Linked DNA regions of Homo sapiens: region 2 is linked to region 1. A link means that fine-mapping ties the variant in region 1 to the expression of a gene that starts in the linked region. Tissue or cell type: tibial nerve. Region 1 holds a variant in brackets; the other region holds the start of a gene. All regions are shown on one strand. Distances are from middle to middle.

Region 1 (5,146 bases):
TGCACAGGAAAGACCCTCCTTGTGAGACCTTACATCACCACTGAGGATGTGTGTCAGATCTGCGCTGAGAAGTTCAAGGTGGGGGACCCTGAGGAGTACAGCCTCTTTCTCTTCGTTGACGAGACATGGCAGCAGCTGGCAGAGGACACTTACCCTCAAAAAATCAAGGCGGAGCTGCACAGCCGACCACAGCCCCACATCTTCCACTTTGTCTACAAACGCATCAAGAACGATCCTTATGGCATCATTTTCCAGAACGGGGAAGAAGACCTCACCACCTCCTAGAAGACAGGCGGGACTTCCCAGTGGTGCATCCAAAGGGGAGCTGGAAGCCTTGCCTTCCCGCTTCTACATGCTTGAGCTTGAAAAGCAGTCACCTCCTCGGGGACCCCTCAGTGTAGTGACTAAGCCATCCACAGGCCAACTCGGCCAAGGGCAACTTTAGCCACGCAAGGTAGCTGAGGTTTGTGAAACAGTAGGATTCTCTTTTGGCAATGGAGAATTGCATCTGATGGTTCAAGTGTCCTGAGATTGTTTGCTACCTACCCCCAGTCAGGTTCTAGGTTGGCTTACAGGTATGTATATGTGCAGAAGAAACACTTAAGATACAAGTTCTTTTGAATTCAACAGCAGATGCTTGCGATGCAGTGCGTCAGGTGATTCTCACTCCTGTGGATGGCTTCATCCCTGCCTTCCTTCCTTTCTTTTTCCTTTTTTTTTTTTTTTTTTTTTTTTTTACAAAGAGCCTTCATGTTTTTATATATTTCATAGAAATTTTTATAGCAGTTGCAGGTAAACTGTCAGGATTGGTTTTAAAATATTTTTGTAACTTTAAAATATTCTATAATTATGCATGTGATTTTAACATTTAATATTCAAAAATAAATCTCTTGCTGGATTTGAGAGTATTGCATTTTTAAAGTCTCTCTTCTGTAACTGGATGTTTTGGCAACTTTGTGGGGAGAGACTGCTGGATTTCTTAAAGCAACGTATTCCTGACACTGGCCACAGAATGCCTTTGGAAATCGGATGTACTGTTCTCTTGTTCACGTTTAGTGGTGTTTTGCTGTTTTGTTTTTTAAACAAATGATGCTGAGAATAAGGAGAGAAATGAATGTAGAGAGAGGTAGAGAGAGAAATATGAACTCTAACAAAGGACTGAGGAGTGCAGTCTGCTGGTTCAGGCTCTTCAAAAGATGTAGAAAAAGAGATAGAAGGAACCACCTATGCTTAAAATACTGTAAATATGCAGTGAGGTTTGGCAAAATCTATTCCATGTGTGATTTGCTTGTAGAAACAATTTTGAAAGCCCCTTGAGGAAAATAAAAATCAAGAAGAACACTTTTCTCCCTTTTCCATACAAATTAAAACTTAACAGCATCAAATTATTGGGACCAGAAACCAAGTAATGTATAATGTGGCTTTTGTTGAGTTAAATAAGATGCTATATAATGGAGAAGAATTTGAAAATGCACAAAAAAATCAATCTACATTATCAGAACCTGCAGTGAAATTAAACTTATGTTAAATAAAACCAGTTTGCAGGTGCACAAACTATGAGGGTCTTGTATCCACGTAACACAGGTAGTTACAAAAACATGTTATTGTACTGTGTAAAGATGCATAGTCATCTCATTTGGTTGGCTTTGTACCTTGTACCTTTTTTAGCCTTGGCTTTTGTTGAACTAGAACCCTCAGCACATACTGTGTTGTACTTTTGTAAATGATTTTTTAAATGGAATTTTGCACATAATACATTGTAATACTGTATGATAATCATGTGTGAAAATAATTTTTGAAATATCCTTTGGCTGTTTTTTTTTTTCTTTAGAGTAAGAATATATTCATGCACCACGCAGTGTCATGGACAGATGAAATCCGAACCAGGGTTTGTGGTTAGACAATGTATCGTGGGGGTGAGCAGAAAAGCTCACATTTCTCAGAAGCTCCTCCTGATATGGGGCAAAAGTTAAGGAGCAGAAGGAAAAGATCATCCTCCCACCTGAAAGTGTTTTCATTGTTATCTAGTGCTGTACTTGGCTCAGTGGGACTTAGAGCAAATCACAGGTAATTTGAACCCGGAGTTAGCTGGGGTCCTGCAGACAGCCCCACCCTGTCCTCACGTAACCTCTGCAATGCCCTGGGTGACAGTTCAGTGCTGTTGCAAAATTGATAGCGCAGAGGCTTGGACTCCTCGCTGCCATACTCCCCATGCTTGGAAGGGTGCCTGGCATATATTAATAGTAAGTGCTCAATAAATCCTTGCTGGCTGAAGGAAGGAAAACATGAGTTTAGAAGGGTTTCTAACTCATCAGTGGGAGAGATCCGTAAAGATCAGAATGAGAATTGAATGGGCTGCCTGCTTTTGATATTTACAACGGACCAAAAGATGACAGCTCAATCCATATGGTTGTCCTCCCAACTCTTCAAACTAAGATCATCATGCTTTGTTGATTTAAAGCAGGTCACAGCCTCTGGATGCGAGGCAGCCTTGCAGCCTTCGGTGGGACGAGAGCGGGCTCAGAAGAGGAAAAGGTAGCGTGGGCAGAAAGCA[A/G]CATCACAAGACGGTCCCTGGTTTTGTCATTGGGCAATGTTTCCCCGTTAAAATTACAACACAACATGTGCCTCCACTTTTTCCCCCACGCAGGCATTTCTCACTTCTCAAATTGCCAGGAAACAGACTTGGGTGAAGGTTGGAGGGAATAAGAGGAGAGTAAAAATATACATGCTGGGTGGAGGAAGAGGAGAACGCATTTCCAAATTTAAAAATACATTATAGCTGAGGTGGGAGGATCGCTTGATCCCAGGAGTTTGAGGGTGCGGGGAGCTATGATCCCGCCACTGCGTTGCAGCCTGGACGACAGAGCAACCCTGTCTTCCCCCTACAAAAAAGTAAAAATAAAAACATGTTATAAAAGTTGAACGCCGGCCAAAGGAAGGGATTTTTTTTTTTTTTTATGTTGCATGCGCTGCCAAATACTTTCACTCTAGTACCACCCCCACACCCCCGGGACACAGAATAGAAATAGAAACTGTTGAAGTAGTTCATATTATGTGGAGGTTACAACTTCAGATCTATAAGAAAATACAAAGGACAGGAAACCCAGCTATGAATGCTTCCATTCACAAATGCGGTTCCGTCCTCATTGGGCAGCTGTTACCTTCATCTTCTTTAAGAGACTTGAAATGAGGCAGCGCTCCAATCTTTAACGCCTGCTCATGCCGTCATGCCTGGTCACACCTAGTCACTCCTGGTCTCCTACCAGCAGTCTCAGAGAAACAGAAACAGCACAAGAAGGACTCCGAAGGGCACAGTGTGTGTGGAACACAGGCATTTTAATCATCTGGCAGTATCTGATAGTAAAATTCTAAGTGTCCTCATTTTTTCGGCCCATTTTCATGATGGTGAATTTGAGACCAAAAGTACTTTTTGTCATTTGGTTAACTCTAATTCAGTTGGAAATATGGGAAAGAAATCGCCTAACATTGCAAAATCCTAAATACGTGATAAGGAAAGGAAGGAAAGAAGGCAGAGAGGGGCCAGGCGCGGTGGCTCATGCCTGTAATCCCAGTACTTTGGGAGGCCAAGGTGGGTGAATCACTTGAGGTCAGGAGTTCAAGACTAGCCTGGCCAACATGTGAAACCCCATCTCTACTAAAAATACAAAAATTAGCCGGGCATGGTGGCAGGCACCTGTAATCCCAGCTACTCGGGAAGCTGAGGCAGGAGAATCCCTTGAAGCCAGGAGGCGGAGGTTGCAGAGAGCTGAGATGAGGACACTGCACTCTAGCCTGGGCAATAGAGCAAGACTCAGTCTCAAAAAGAAAAAAAAGAAAAAAAAAGAAGGCAGAGAGGGAGGGAGGAGGAAAACATCTGGCATTTGTCTCAAGAAACAGGTTCTGATTAGAAAAAGATCGATTTTACTCCAACATCAAAAATGGTGGCAGTTGGCACAAACCTTTCCCCCATGAATACTAGCTTTGGAAGAAATGTAGGTATGGGAAGTTAAAAATATATATAATTATTCTGAAAGGTCTGGGCATGTAACCTTTTTTTTTTTTTTTTTTTTTTTGAGACAAGGTGTGACTGTCACTCAGGCTGAAATGAAATGCAGTGGTGCTATCTCGGCTCACTGCAGCCTCAACCTCCTGGGCTCAAGCACAATCCTCCTACCTCGGCCTCCTGACTAGCTAGGACTACAGGTGTGCACCACCATGCCCAGCTAATTTGTGTTTATTTTTTGTAGAGGTGAGGTCTCACTATGTTGCCCAGGCTAGTCTCAAACTCCTGAACTCAAGGGATCTACCCCCCTCAGCTTCCCAAATTTCTGAGAAAGTGTAACCAAGGCCTCCCCTCAGAAGTCTCCCTGGAGAAGCTTCAGTTGGAGTGAGGTGGTTGGGGGTGGAGATGGGGGCAGAGTTTCTTATCTCGAGTCTGCTATAAATTCTCCCATTTAAAAGTAAAATTTGCCTGAACTCTGAGGCTGCATGTAAGACACTTAGACTATCATTACATTAATGAATCTGAGTATTTCCTTTGAGTGCACACATTAGAACTACTACAGCCAGCCCTCATTTCTCACTGCTGGGGAACGGGGGTGGTCAGATCCTGCCACCTGTGGAGAGGGGCTCAGAACCTGAGGACCACGGGTGGCCAGGGAGGAGCTCCTAGACGGCCTTCACCTCTGTAACCAGCCTTCGGTTTCCTGGGGGAAATATCACTACACATAATTAGCTCCATTGCTTCCCTTTCTTCCCATTTCCCCACCATGATTCTGTGGGCTGGGTTTTCCCTCACGTAGTAGGTTTGAGGGTGCTCTTAACTCTATTCCAAGCCTCCTTGCCAAAAAGCAGGCTCTGATCCTTTTCACAGTTTGTTTCTTCAGTTCCAACCAGAGACTCAAAAAGTGTGAACCCGGCCCCACTGCAAACATTACCCGCCCACACTATCTGTCACCAAGACCCAGTGTCCGTTGTTCCATTTGAATAGGTGGCTCTCAGCTTTGGCTGTCAGCTTGAAGTCACCCGGAGCCTTTTAAAACTCCCAATGCCCCAGCTGCCCAGACCATCAGAATCTCTGCAGAGGCGACCCAGCCAGCCATATTTATTTTAAACTTCCAAGGTGCTTCTGCTGTGAAAACTACTA
Region 2 (5,146 bases), 240 kb before region 1:
AGCGGGACTTGCCGCTAAGGGTGAAGGAGAAGGGGTTGAGGGGTACTTGCCCCTGCCCCAGGAAAGGCAGAGAAGGGGTAGAGACAAGGAGAGAAGGGGTTGGGGTACTTGCCCCTTCCCCAGAAAAGCAGGACTTGCCGCTAAGGGTGAAGGACCAAGGCAGGCGTCCCTGCGTGGTCTGACACCCTTGAAACGTGGGTGTATAATCACAGAGGCATCCCTGCAATGATTAAACACCAAGGGAAGGCTGCCTTCCCAGTCCGTGACCGGCGCCGGAGTTTTGGGTCCACGGATAAAACGTGTCTCTTTTGTCTCTACCAGAAAATGAAAGGAATTGAAATTAAGAGAAGGGAGAGATTGAAGTGTAGCGCCAAGATTGAAAGGAGAAAGAGGTTGAGGGATAGTGAGGCAAGTTGGAGAAGAGAGTAAAAAGAGGCCGCTTACTGGATTTGAAATTGGTGAGATGTTTCTTGGGCTGGTCGGTCCTGAGGTCGTAGGTGGATCTTTCTCACAGAGCAAAGAGCAGGAGGACAGGGGATTGATCTCCCAAGGGAGGTCCCCCAATCTGAGTCACGACACCAAATTTCATGCGCGTCCGTGTGAAGAGACCACCAAACAGGCTTTGTGTGAGCAACATGGCTGTTTATTTCACCTGGGTGCAGGTGGGCTGAGTCCAAACAGAGAGTCAGCAAAGAGTGGTGGATTATTATTAGTTCTTATAGGTTTTGAGATAGGCGGTGAAGTTAAGAGCAATGTTTTGTGGGCAGGGGTGGATCTCACAAAGTACATTCTCAAGGGTGGGGAGAATTACAAAGAACCTTCTTAAGGGTGGGGGAGATTACAAAGTACATTGATTAGTTAGGGTGGGGCGGGAACAAATCACAATGGTGGAATGTCATCAGTTAAGGCTATGTTTACTTCTTTTGTGGATCTTCAGTTACTTCAGACCATCTGGATGTATACGTGCAAGTCACAGGGGATGCGATGGCTTGGCTTGGGCTCAGAGGCCTGACACACACCATCTATTTAATTCTGTGACCTGCTCCAGACACAAGCACTCTGGGCCCCCATATTCTTTTTCTTGTTTTCCCTATCACCGACCTCTTCCAACACCCCAAATAATTTACTTAGGGATGGCCATGGTTTACCCTCTGTCTCCCACTTCTTCCCCGCAGGCCTTCAGCTCCCCCAGGTGAGGGAGACCTTTGCTTTGTTCACCGACATATCCCAAGCATTAGAACTGCGCCTGGCACCAGCAGGTGTTCAATTATTTATTTAATGGGTGACTTGGAGCAGAAACCGAAGTGCAGTGGACTGTTTTCCTGGGATCTGAGCTGATGATAAATGATAAATAAGTCTTGGGATTTTAGAAGGCAGGAATCACGAAAACCAACACCAATGAAATCCAAGTCTCCTCTGCTACTATCTGAAGTGGAACAGAACAGAAATAAGGTCTGTTTTCTTTCCGCTTCGCTGTTCTGTTTCTGTCCAAAACAACCGTCTCTCTGACACCTTCGAGGTGTCCCTTTGTCTCTTTGAGGTTCCCTCCGTGACACTGGCTACTTTGTAACTCTAACACTGTCAGCAATTAATTCCCAAAGGTGAGGTCCCCGTGGGAAGTGGGAAAACCCAGCGAATCACCAGGGACCCGCCTGATTCCGAAAAGGCTGGATGCTGGCTGGGAACCGGCCCCGCAGCTCCGGCGTCCCCGCCTGCCTGCGCGGCCTTCAGCTGGGGTTACGGAGGGCTCCCAGCGCCGATCCAAACCGCGTTCCAGGCGGGGTGGGCGGGCCCCTGGCCAGCGAGGCCGAAGCAAAACAACCCGCCCAGGCGTCCAGAGCGTATCCAACCCTGGAGAACCTGCCCCGGAACCAAGAGCCGCAGCCAGCTCAGGCCTCTCGAGTGGGGCCTTTCCAGCCCCTGCAACAGATCCCGGGATCTGTAGTTGGGCGGAGGGGCTCGTTATGGGAAAGGGGTGCGTGCGCGTTTGTGCTAAAACAAGAAAGGCAAGAATCTCCGAGAACAAAACTCTGGTCCTCGCCTGGCCGGGGACCGCAGAAGACAGGGGCGGCAGCGCCAAGGCGGGTCAGGGGCCGGTCCAGCCAAGTTTGCTCCGGCTTAGATAAACTTTCTGATGGCAGTTTTTCCTGGTTGCAGCCTGGGTTCCTTGTAACAGGGTAAGCGTAGCGGGTGGTTGTCAAGAGGGGCGGAGGCTGGCGGTTACAGGGAATGGAGGGATGGGCCGGACCTGGGGTCGCGCAGGCGCCTTGGTCGCTGCCTCCGATCCGATCACCCCCGCCCCATCTCCTCTGCGAGCTCAGGAAGGTGGCTGGGGGAGGGGGATGGCTCCCTACTGCCGAGGGACGGCCCGAGGCAAACACAAAGCCCTTCCCTCCCCTCCTCCTCTTTCCTCTCCTCTCCCCTCCCCTCCCCTCCTTTCTCCCCCTTCCTCCTCTTCCTCCTCCTCCTCTTGCTCCTCCCGGGCGGGGAAACCCAGCCCCGCGCTCGTCTTTGGGGCCACCGGTCGCCCCCGCCTCCGGGACCTGCGGGGAGGGCCCGCGAGAGGTAAGGGGCGGTGGCAGCGGAGACCCCACCCCCTGTGCCCGCACCTAGAGAGCCCGGAGAGGCTCCGGGCACGGGCGGGGCTCTCTGGGGTTCCAGACGTGGGTGCTGCTGTGCGCACTCTCTCCCTACTCCGGAGGGGACTTGAGGAAGACAGCCAGAGCGCGTCCTCGGGGATCGTGGGGAACGGAAGGGGGAAGGGGGATCAGGGAGTGGGGACAAGGGGCAGAGTGACATTCCGGAGCGCGAGGTGGCCGCTGGTCCCGGCAGGGTCACCGGGTGTCCTCAGCTGACCTGTGCGGGGCTGGGGTGAGGGACAGCTGGAGGGTGCAGGCACTATGGCTCGAGGTGCGGAGGTGCGGGTGTGCGTGCGTGTGCACCGGACGGAGTTTGGTAGGGACCTTTGAGGAGTTCTACCTGCAGGGCTGCCTGTGGGGTGTCAAGTGCTCCCTGCGCCTGAGCGCGCGGGTCAGACCCGGTGTCGCACAGCTTTGATCCCCAGCGCGGACCCCACTGGTGAGTCCAGCCAGTGTGCAGGGCAGATGCTCCGACCGGAGATTTCCTCCCCCGGGTGGAAAAGCAGGAGGGTTGTTGTGTCCGGGCAGGGGGCACTTGGGCTGTCGCGGTGATTGATGGCTGCGCAGCGGGCGGAGGAGGAGCCCCGGATTCCTGCCGGGAAGGGACGGGGCCACTTTCCCACTTTGAGGCCTCCCCGCCCCCTTCTGGGCTTGGCCTCCACCCTTGGCCTGGGCTCCCACCAGCTCGGCGTCCACCCACCGGCGGTGGCGCGCCCCTCGACCGCGCGGGGACAGCAGGATTTGCAGAAGTTCAGCTTGAAAGCCTATGATATGTTGCCAAGAAATACAGGGCAAGATCGGTCCCCTGGGCCCTGAGAGGCGCCTGTCTTCTCAGAGCTCTTAAATCCCTGGGGCTTTCCTAATTCCGCAGTGTAGCGGCACTTCCTTGCGCGGTTTTGGGCACATTGGGGTTTCTTAGGAACACGCTGTCATCGGTAAGGAAACATCAGAGTACTCTTCGACCAAAAGGACTGTAAATACTGAAGCAAAAAGAAACACTTGCTGGGAGTGCAAAGGGCTTACTGGGAAAAAAGAAACACACAGGGCAGCACTCCATCATTAAGATAAATAGTATTTTAATACAATCTTTTTAACAAAACCAAATTGAATGTAAAAAATTCATGATAAGCAAAAATCAACATTTTAAATACAGGTGGGTGTTGTTAGAACCCTGCTTCATAGGCCGGGTGCAGTGGCTTATGCCTGTAATCCCAGCACTTAGGGAGGCCAAGGCAGGCAGATCACTTGAGGTCAGGAGTTCAAGACCAGCCTGGCCAACAGGGTGAAACCCCATCTCTACTAAAAATACAAAAATTAGCTGGGCCTGAAGGCATGTGCCTGTGGTCCCAGCTACTCGGGAGGCTGAGGTGGGAGAATCACTTGAACCTGGGGGCAGAGGTTGCAGTAAGCCGACATTGTGCCACTCCACTCAGCCTGGGTGACAGAGTGAAACTCTGTCTAAAAAAAAAGAACCCTGCTTCATTGTTCAATGGGAACAGTCATATCCAGTCTCCCTCCCCCACCTCCCCATTTGTTTGTTCCCTTGCCTGGTGGTTTGAGAGTTGACAGTGGCATGCAACAGATTGAGCAACTCTGGCTTCAGATGTAGTCACGTTCACTGAATGCAGAGCTTTTATTAACTTTTTACCTAATTCAAATGTAGGAGGATATTGTCATAAGTGGATATAGAGGTGCTAATTTTCCTTTTTGCCTCAGGTTCCAATATTGCCTCTGGAATACTCATGCACTCCCGTGCTTTGGCACCTCCAGAGAGAGCATCACAGGCTAGGGATGGGTAGGGTCCCGGGACAGTGAAGGGCCCTTGCTTTTGGAACTTGGGAAGAAGGCTGTTGACAGGAGCTTTTGGGTTTGGAGACTTGCTCTCAGTAGTTGGAGGCTGGAGACACGGGGAAAACCAACCTGCTATCAAGACCTTTGTCTGGAAACATTCTCCTGCAGACAGTTCATCAGAGCAGAGGAGGAAACTGAAATAGCCCACACTTGACCTCTAGTGTAGGGCAGGTGGGAGGGAGCTTGACTCCCAGGATGGCTATGGCGTGTGCTTATTTAAAGATAACTTCGCAGCAGCACTCTTATCCCCACCCAAGGTGTCCTGCCATACACCTTATCCAAAGTCAAGGGTCACTACCCACTTCAGGACTTCCACTTTCCAGAAAGAACCTCCTTGCTTAGCTAAACCCTCTTCCTCTGCTTGGAGGACACAGATGAATCAGGTATCACAGATGAAACACAGGGTATGCTACCCTGAGAGGTCCATGCTCGTGTGACCCATTAATGGGAGGCCCATTCTTCACATACTCTCTGTATTATAGTGCTTTGACCTTGTGCCCAATTCCCCTTGTATATCCAACCTACCTAATGAACCTTCAAGAATCCTAATAGTTTCAGCAAGAAAGATTTCCCCGACCCTGTCCTCCTTTCCCCAGTAAGACACCCCCTCACTGCCACCAGAATTCCTTGTGTGTGTGTATGTGTATGTATCTCTT

The links. PIP is the estimated chance that this variant, and not a neighbour inherited with it, causes the effect.
Region 2: it holds the start of RIN2, and the variant in region 1 is fine-mapped to the expression of RIN2 in tibial nerve (GTEx, PIP 0.98). The same link has a PIP of 0.9 or more in lung.

Annotation. Positions count from the first base shown.
Region 1 is chr20:20,000,652-20,005,797 of GRCh38, forward strand. RIN2 (Ras and Rab interactor 2) reads left to right here. Exons shown (of 13, transcript NM_018993.4): 13 at 1-1,805. The coding sequence ends at 285. Among named protein-coding and RNA genes, the nearest start is that of NAA20, 14 kb to the right of the region's middle. The variant A/G (reference allele first, on the strand shown) is at 2,555.
Region 2 is chr20:19,755,763-19,760,908 of GRCh38, forward strand. It overlaps RIN2 (Ras and Rab interactor 2), which reads left to right and starts at 2,496. Exons shown (of 13, transcript NM_018993.4): 1 at 2,496-2,565. RefSeq lists an enhancer at 2,885-3,459.